Homo sapiens: one gene and its partner. The protein of the gene in region 2 purifies or fractionates together with the protein of the main gene of each other region. This does not show direct contact. Each region holds a gene or a part of one and is shown on either strand. Other genes may lie near its edges. The genes, in order: PGM2L1 and EIF2AK4.

The links.
Region 1: the proteins of EIF2AK4 (region 2) and PGM2L1 purify together in Homo sapiens (affinity purification with mass spectrometry; one large-scale study listed by BioGRID and IntAct). This does not show direct contact.

The regions. Positions count from the first base shown.
Region 1 is NC_000011.10:74,342,714-74,346,537, forward strand, and holds part of PGM2L1 (glucose 1,6-bisphosphate synthase), read right to left. Parts: intron 2,937-3,824; coding exon 2,756-2,936; intron 704-2,755; coding exon 610-703; intron 302-609; coding exon 172-301; intron 1-171. UniProt on the Homo sapiens protein: Glucose 1,6-bisphosphate synthase using 1,3-bisphosphoglycerate as a phosphate donor and a series of 1-phosphate sugars, including glucose 1-phosphate, mannose 1-phosphate, ribose 1-phosphate and deoxyribose 1-phosphate, as acceptors.
Region 2 is NC_000015.10:40,031,343-40,035,166, reverse strand, and holds part of EIF2AK4 (eIF-2-alpha kinase GCN2), read right to left. Parts: intron 2,999-3,824; coding exon 2,930-2,998; intron 2,411-2,929; coding exon 2,366-2,410; intron 842-2,365; coding exon 723-841; intron 141-722; coding exon 83-140; 3' UTR 1-82. UniProt on the Homo sapiens protein: Metabolic-stress sensing protein kinase that phosphorylates the alpha subunit of eukaryotic translation initiation factor 2 (EIF2S1/eIF-2-alpha) in response to low amino acid availability.

The DNA of each region.
Region 1 (3,824 bases), on a different chromosome or scaffold from region 2:
AGGAAGATCAGCCTACTATGGTATTTTATACAAAGTGGCAGTCCTTAATTCACATAATTTTAATACTTTTTAAAAAAGGATCAACTATTCTTCAGAAACAAATTTAGAAAACTAAGGGTAGGACAATAAAAGAAAAATCTAGCATGTGAAATTCATAATAGTAGAACTTACTTTTCATAAACCTTAACCAGTTGCTGTTTCAATGTTATATTCATGGTTTCCAGGTAAGATGCCATCTCAGCAACCACAACAGCTGCACTCACCCCATCTTTATCCAAAACTGAAGTTCCACAGAGAAAACCTGAGGATTGAAAACCATCACTAGAAAAGAGGAAAACTTAAGGCTATAATTTCAATAGTTTTACATTTCTTCAGAAGGACCAGGAAATTTAAAAGCCTAGTAATAGATGAAACTCATCAATACTGAGTGTATTTAGGGGACACTTTCGTTCTTTTTTTTTTCTGATAAGAAATGTATCTACATATTTCTCATTCTCTGTAGTTTTTACAACTCAAAATATGAAACCAGAACACAAAAAACTCCTCCTACAGAATTACATTTTAAAAATTATCAATCAAATTTTGAAGATTTTAATATTTACTACATACCAATAGACTCTTCAAATGCAAAAAGGACTTCTTTCCCATTTTCCAGGAGGTCTATTATCCTACTTCCAATCCATTTAAAACCTGGTAATGTTTCCTGAAATGCAGAGGAGGCCACTCTAGTTAAGTGACTGTCTCACAAATACCTATTAGAGAAAAATCTGCCACTACATGCACACAACGTTCATATAATGATCCTTACTATAGTCTTCAGTCCACAAAGATTTATACAGTAGCAGACATATAGTAATGAAGGGCCATAAATACACACACTGCTACTACTAATGACCTACTATTTACAGATTATAGTACTAGGTGATTTACACCAAATATAAACCAGCATTTATAAGTGGTGCTTCATGTAGTCACAAAGTAACATGAATAAGCACATACAGTATAATCAGTATAATCACCTACTATTAAGGACTGAACCAGGTGCTTTACATTATCTTTTTTTTTTTTTTTTTTTTTTTTTTTGAGACGGAGTCTCGCTCTGTCACCCAGGCTGGAGTGCAGTGGCGCAATTTCAGCTCACTGCAACCTCCGTCTCCCAGGTTCAAGCAATTCTCCTGTCTCAGCCTCCTAAGTAGCTAGGATTACAGGTGTGCCACCACGCCCAGCTAATTTTTGTATTTTTAGTAGAGACGGGGTTTCACCATGTTGGTCAGGCTGGTCTTGAACTCCTGACCTTGTGATCCACCTGCCTCAGCCTCCCAAAGTGCTGGGATTACAGGCGTGAGCCACCACGTCTGGCCCCATTATCTTTTTTTAATGCTCAAAAACGCTGTCGCTGAAACACAGCCTTGAAAGATAAGTCAATCTGCCCAAAATTATACTGCATATAAGAGATGGAGTCAAGATTCAATTTCAAGTTTCTGCTTCTCAGAAACTGTCCTTTAAGCTATATTACAACCACTAATATAAGAGTGCCTATGAAAGTTGGTGGATTTACTCTCCCTGAGTAATCAATGAAAGGTCATGAAGCTTTTTAGTGATGCACTTTTAATATTAGCATAACATAAGCTTGAACCAAGTGTACCTTCTCATAACACTGTGTCCTAACTATTAATAAAACCACCAAGACAGTTACTAACTACTTCTTTAAATAATTAGATTTGAGGACTTTTCATCTAATGAGCTACTGTTCACTTTAAAGACACAGAAAGAGTTTCAGAGTCAACAGAAAGAGTATGTGATACACCCTAATACTAAAGCTCACCATTACTAACTTGTTTCCTAATTCACCTTTCTACCTCCTTACTACAAAATAAAAATTAAAAAGTCAAAAACCTCCCTGCTACAACAAAAACAAGCAAATAAAATTATAATAGTGGTCTTTAGAATTGTTCTTCTTTCTCTTTTGTGCCCATTATACTTCTTCTTGCTATAGACATAAACTAGGAAAACATCAGAATCTTAGGTGTGAATCAACTTTCAGTATCTTCTATTTTGCTATTTGTGTTTTAGAAAGCATAAGGTTGAAAGCTCTATTTCATAAAGCCAGGTACAATTTTCTTTTACTCAGTAAATTAGTGTTAAGACCTGTAGCCTGACTATGGCTCAAGAAAAATGTCCAGGGACATTTTCACTGATATTTGGCAAAGATGGCAGAGAAAAAGCAATTTAGTTAACATGGCTGCAAAAATGGTCAGCTTAAGGGTCTTAAGGTCATAAGGTTAATGATCTGGGCTGAGAGAGAGCCACTGCTTGTTTTTTTGGATGTAGGATCATTGGGTTTACTATGCAATTTAGAAGACTACTTGAAGTTCCTTAAGACCATGCTTGAAGAGCCTGAACAAGGGGTTGATGACACCTACAACTTTTTGGAGAGAAGTCTGAGTTACTGATGGGGTCACCAGGAGCTATATTTTCCCTGTCTGAAAACCAGATATTTGTTGTACAGAATAATAAGTATTAATGTAATTTTTAAAGAATATCTCATCTTAGTCCCAGAAATTCATATACGGTACTGGATGAATTTTGGCTCAAGGTGTCTAAATTATCAAAAGAGACTGAACAAGTGTTAACAGAATTAGAAAAATAAGGGAATTACAAATGAAATCAATGAAAGTCAGTCTTGGTGGGGAGATGTCTTTAACATACAGAAATAGGTTTTAAAAAGTAGCACACAGATATTATTGATTCTTACTTCAAAATGAAATCCTTCTTTAAGTGCAATTGCCTTCAGAATTTTAGAAGAGACTGTGGTGGCTAACATATAAACGTTCTTCACATCAGCATTTCTTGATTTATTTTTCTTCCAGCAATCAAACATCCACCATCCAAACAAAGCTGCCAACTCATTCCCTGTGAAAACTTTCCAACAACCACTGTAGAGAGAAGGAAAATACAATGTCAAGACCTTTCTTCTCATTAAAACTTCTTGACTCCAAGGCCTAAAAATTACCATCCTTCAGTTAGGAAAAATCAAAAACTATCATATGGGATTTTTGAGAAAACATTTATTACTACTTCTTTTCTAACTGACCAGGGGTGATTTTACGGTAGGAATGGTACAACGTCTTTTGGAAAATTATTATATCATTACATTTATTCTTTTACTTAATGAGAGAAAAAATTATGATAAATAATTAAGCCTTTCTATTTAAGGACATTTGTCACATTATAATGGTAAAAATACATAGCAGCCCAGAGGACTAAGATTAGGAAATAGGTGGCTCATGCCTGTAATCGCAGCACTTTGGGGGGCCAAGGTGGGAGGATCACCTGAGGTCAGGAGTTCGAGACCAGCCTGACCAACATGGCAAAACCCTGTCTCTACTAAAAATACAAAATTAGCCAGGCATGGTGGCACATGCCTGTAGTCCCAGCTACTTAGGAGGCTGAGGCAGGAGAATAGCTTGAACCTGGGAGGCAGAGGCTGCAGTGAGCCAAGATAGCACCATTGCACTCCACTCCAGCCTAAGCAACAAGAGCGAAACTATGTCTCCAAAAAAAAAAAAAAAAAAAAAAAAAAGCAAACAAACAAAAAAAAAGGTTAGGAAATAACTACATCATAAAGCGATCTGTTGGGATATTATGTCTTTGTAAAAATTAATATTTTCAAAAAATGTATAAAGTCAGGGGAAAATGCTTACACTGTAAGCATTATACTTAACCATTACACTGTAAGCAGTTTTTGAAGCATTTTGTACAATTAATGTGGAAAATAATCAAGATATAAAACTATGATCATAATTTAATAAAAACAAATACAT
Region 2 (3,824 bases):
AATTATGATGAATGTACAACATTCCATTATTCCAGTATAAGCCTCTGTCTGTTTGAATGAGGTTAACGACAGTTCTTTAGGGTTAAAATAAGATTCTGTAGTAGTCATCTCTATAGCTGTACAGAAATAGCACAGACACCCTGCAAAAGAAAAGAAAAGATATAAGGACAGACTCAGTTTAATGAGTGAAGAACAGAGCTAATAAATTTTTATAACACCTGTAGGAGCTTTATTTAAGCAAAAACAAGATGGAAGGCTAGTCATTAAAAAATTATATAGGTTTTATACAAGGTGTGACTGACAGGGGTCTGCAGTATAAGGTCCTAGTAAGGAGATAACCATTCACCTCATAGGCTTCCTTGTTGCCTTTTAAGTGTATGATAACATGAATGATTGATTGATTGATTGGCATTATGACATAAGGACATACAGCAAAGTAGTCATGGTTATTTTCTTTGATTTAAACATACTTAGAAAGTGAATTACCTGGGTGAACAAAATTGTAATTGGGACAGCTACTCCTAGGACCCCTGTGTTTTGTTATTGATGAGATCATGACTGTGATTCACAGTCCAAGCAAGATTTATTGGTTGTCAGCTGCAATTCTAAGAACAGCTTACCAGGCGTCAAACCTCAACAAGACAACAAAATAATGTCACTCTGAAACCCCCCGCCCTGAATTTTAACCATGTGAACCCTGCTATGCCCAAGTGATAACTTACTTTTTTTCTACTTTGATGTTATAAATTTCATCACAGACTAATTTGAGGTATCTTTGCTTTGGCAGGCGTGACAGCAGCTGCTTCACAGTTGTGTTAAATGCCTGTTCATCAGCATCCCACTAGGAAAAAAATAGATAAGACTTAACAACAGGTCTCTAGGGTTTACTAGCTGGTTTTTTCTGGGTCACTAATGAAATTCCAGTGTCATTTCCCTCTTCAAGTATACCAGGAGAATCAGTAATAGGGAGATAGCAGAACCAGTTAGGAGACTGCTGGGGTTCCTCTGAAGCACCAGTTTTCCTTAAAACAAGACTCCCTAATTAGAGCCTGATTAACAATGCTGCAGCCCTAGTGTGCTGATGTGACTTTAGAGCAGTTATTTCTGCCTACCGTTTACTTTTTTTTTTTTTTTTTTTGAGATGGAGTTTCGGTCTTGTTGCCCAGGCTGGAGTGCAGTGGCACAATCTCGGCTCACTGCAACCTCCACCTCCTGGGTTCAAGTAATTCTTCTGCCTCAGCCTCCCAAGTAGCTGGGATTACAGGCGCCTGCCACTACGCCCGGCTAATTTTTTGTATTTTTAGTAGAGATGGGGTTTCACCATGTTGGCCAGGCTGGTCTCAAACCCCAGACCTCAGGTGATCCACCCACGTCGGCCTCCCAAAGTGCTGGGATTACAGGCGTGAGCCACTGCACCCGGCCTCTGTTTACTTTTTGTACAACGGTGATAGCAGCTCTTAAGTATATCCATTTGACTGGATCATAAATCAGTACACTGCCAGTGAGATAGTGGTATATGCTTATTTGTAAGAGAACAAAAAATGATATATAAAATACTAGTTCTAGGGCTAAGTTCACTATTAATCTAATTTAATTTGTGACTAAACACTCTGGATAGACAAAAAAGTATTCTTTGATATGACATGTTGCAAAAGTCACCTGTAGCTATGACTATAGTTGAGTGTTCTTAATAGCAAAGATAACTATTCAAATTTTTAAAGTTCTTATTTAGGCTATTTGATGATAAAGGGATGTACCTGTAAAAATATATATATATTTATAAAGGACCTAATTAATTTTTACAAAAGGATTTTGTTTTGTATAGTACTAATCTGCAAATGAGCTTCCCTAGCTGGAATGGAGGTTTGAGAGATAGTATAGTATAGTGGTTAAGAACACCGATTCTGCTAGTCTGCTTAGGTTCAAATCCTGGTTCTACTACTTACTAGCTGGGTGACTGTGGGTAAGATATTTAACCTCTCTACTTCCGTACTCTGTAAAGGGATAATAACAGTATCTACATTTTGGGGTGGTAATGATTAAATGAGTTACTACTTGTAAAATGCTTACAACAAGGCCTGCCAGACCCTGACACATAGTAAAAGCAGTATATGTGTTTTTTTGTTTTTGTTTTTTGTTTTTAATAAAATAAGTATCTGAAAAATAAAGTCACTAGAAAAGTATGAGTCCTTCAACATAGGATTTAGGAACATATATGTTACATAAAAGGAAAAATGTTACTAAATTCCTGCAGCTGCCAGAAAAATACTATCACTAATGAATGCCGTCTTCAGTATTTTGGCAAACTAATAGCAAAGATTTGGGATCTTAAAGGCCACAGTGCAGAAGAGTTCATATTGCTTACCTCTAATGATAAAAACTGTAATATTGTTTCTTTGGGTAGATCCACCTGTGAATACACACAAATGTACATCAACTCTCAGCAGCACAATACTGCCTTGTGACCATAGTGTCACGTGAAATGCAGCAGTATGAATAGGGTTTGCAGAGTCTGAGATGCTATTGTGCTGTAAAAGGGCTTAATGAACTGTGCAGTGATAAGATCTTAGCCCTGGAGAATTAATAAGCAGTGGAAACTGTACTCCCTGTCCCTCTACACCACACCCGAAAGGTCTGACGCTGCTACATGTATTCGGTGTAAGCTTAGCAAGGCAAAGGCCTGATATATGTAGGAAAATGACTTTTGTTTTCATTTTCCTCTATCTTAAAGAGGAACAAAGAGGAGAAACAAAAAACCTTAAATTCTCCCCCTAGTTCTTAATAGTTTTAAATTGCGTGTAGTTCACATCACAATAAGGCCTGCATCCAAATTCTGCTGACACTGAGCAAAAAAGCTCTGAACCCTGAGGCAACTACTTTGACAGTATGGACAGAAGCCACCTTCAAAATACTAAAGAAAGCCACTTACAGCCAGAATTTCAATTTCACTGCTTTTCTGATGTAAGTTGGCAAGGGAGGTCTGAAGTCGAGTTTGTACCTAAATAGTAAGAAAATGGAATTCAGAACATGTTAAACCAAGCCATCTTTCTTGCCATCTTATTTCCTATCCCAGGATACAATCACAGGGTTACATACCAAAGCCTAGAAAGGATTCCAAATGGTGTCTAAAGGTTTGCCCTTGGCTGGGTACGATGGCTCATGCCCGTAATCCCAGCACTTTGGGAGGCCAAGGCTGGGGGATCACCTGAGGTCAGGAGTTTGAGACCAGCTTGGCCAACATGGTGAAACCCCGTCTCTACTGAAAATAGAAAAATTAGCAGGGCATGGTGGCCGGCGCTTATAATACTAGCTATTCGGGAGGCTGAGGCAGGAGAATCGCTTGAACATGGGAGGCAGAGGTTGTGGTGAGCTGATGTTGCACCACTGCACTCCAGCCTGGGTGACAGAGTGAGACTCTGTCTCAAAAAAAAAAAAGAAGATTTGCTCTTAATCCACTCAGAAAGGGGTGTCTAGCAATATGATCTCAGGGGAAATGAGGTTTTTATAACTTATCTTGACCATTTGTTTAATAATCCTTGTCAATTATCTCTTCATAATTTTGAAATGATTCCTTATAAAGGCGTAGCGCAGTGAAACAGTGCACACAGAGACAGAGAGATGATAGTATGAAGCTAAATTGGGAAAAAGGGAGAGGTGGCAGCAATGAGGACATGGTGTGAGAACTGAAACTTGGTAGGTGATGAAGGCAGTAGGAAGACGGGAAAAATAGGTTTCCACCCAAATCCTGAGAAACAGCTAGAAGAGCTTACAAAAATAAAGTACCTGATTTTTGTATTTCAGTCTGATTACATTTCTAAAATTGA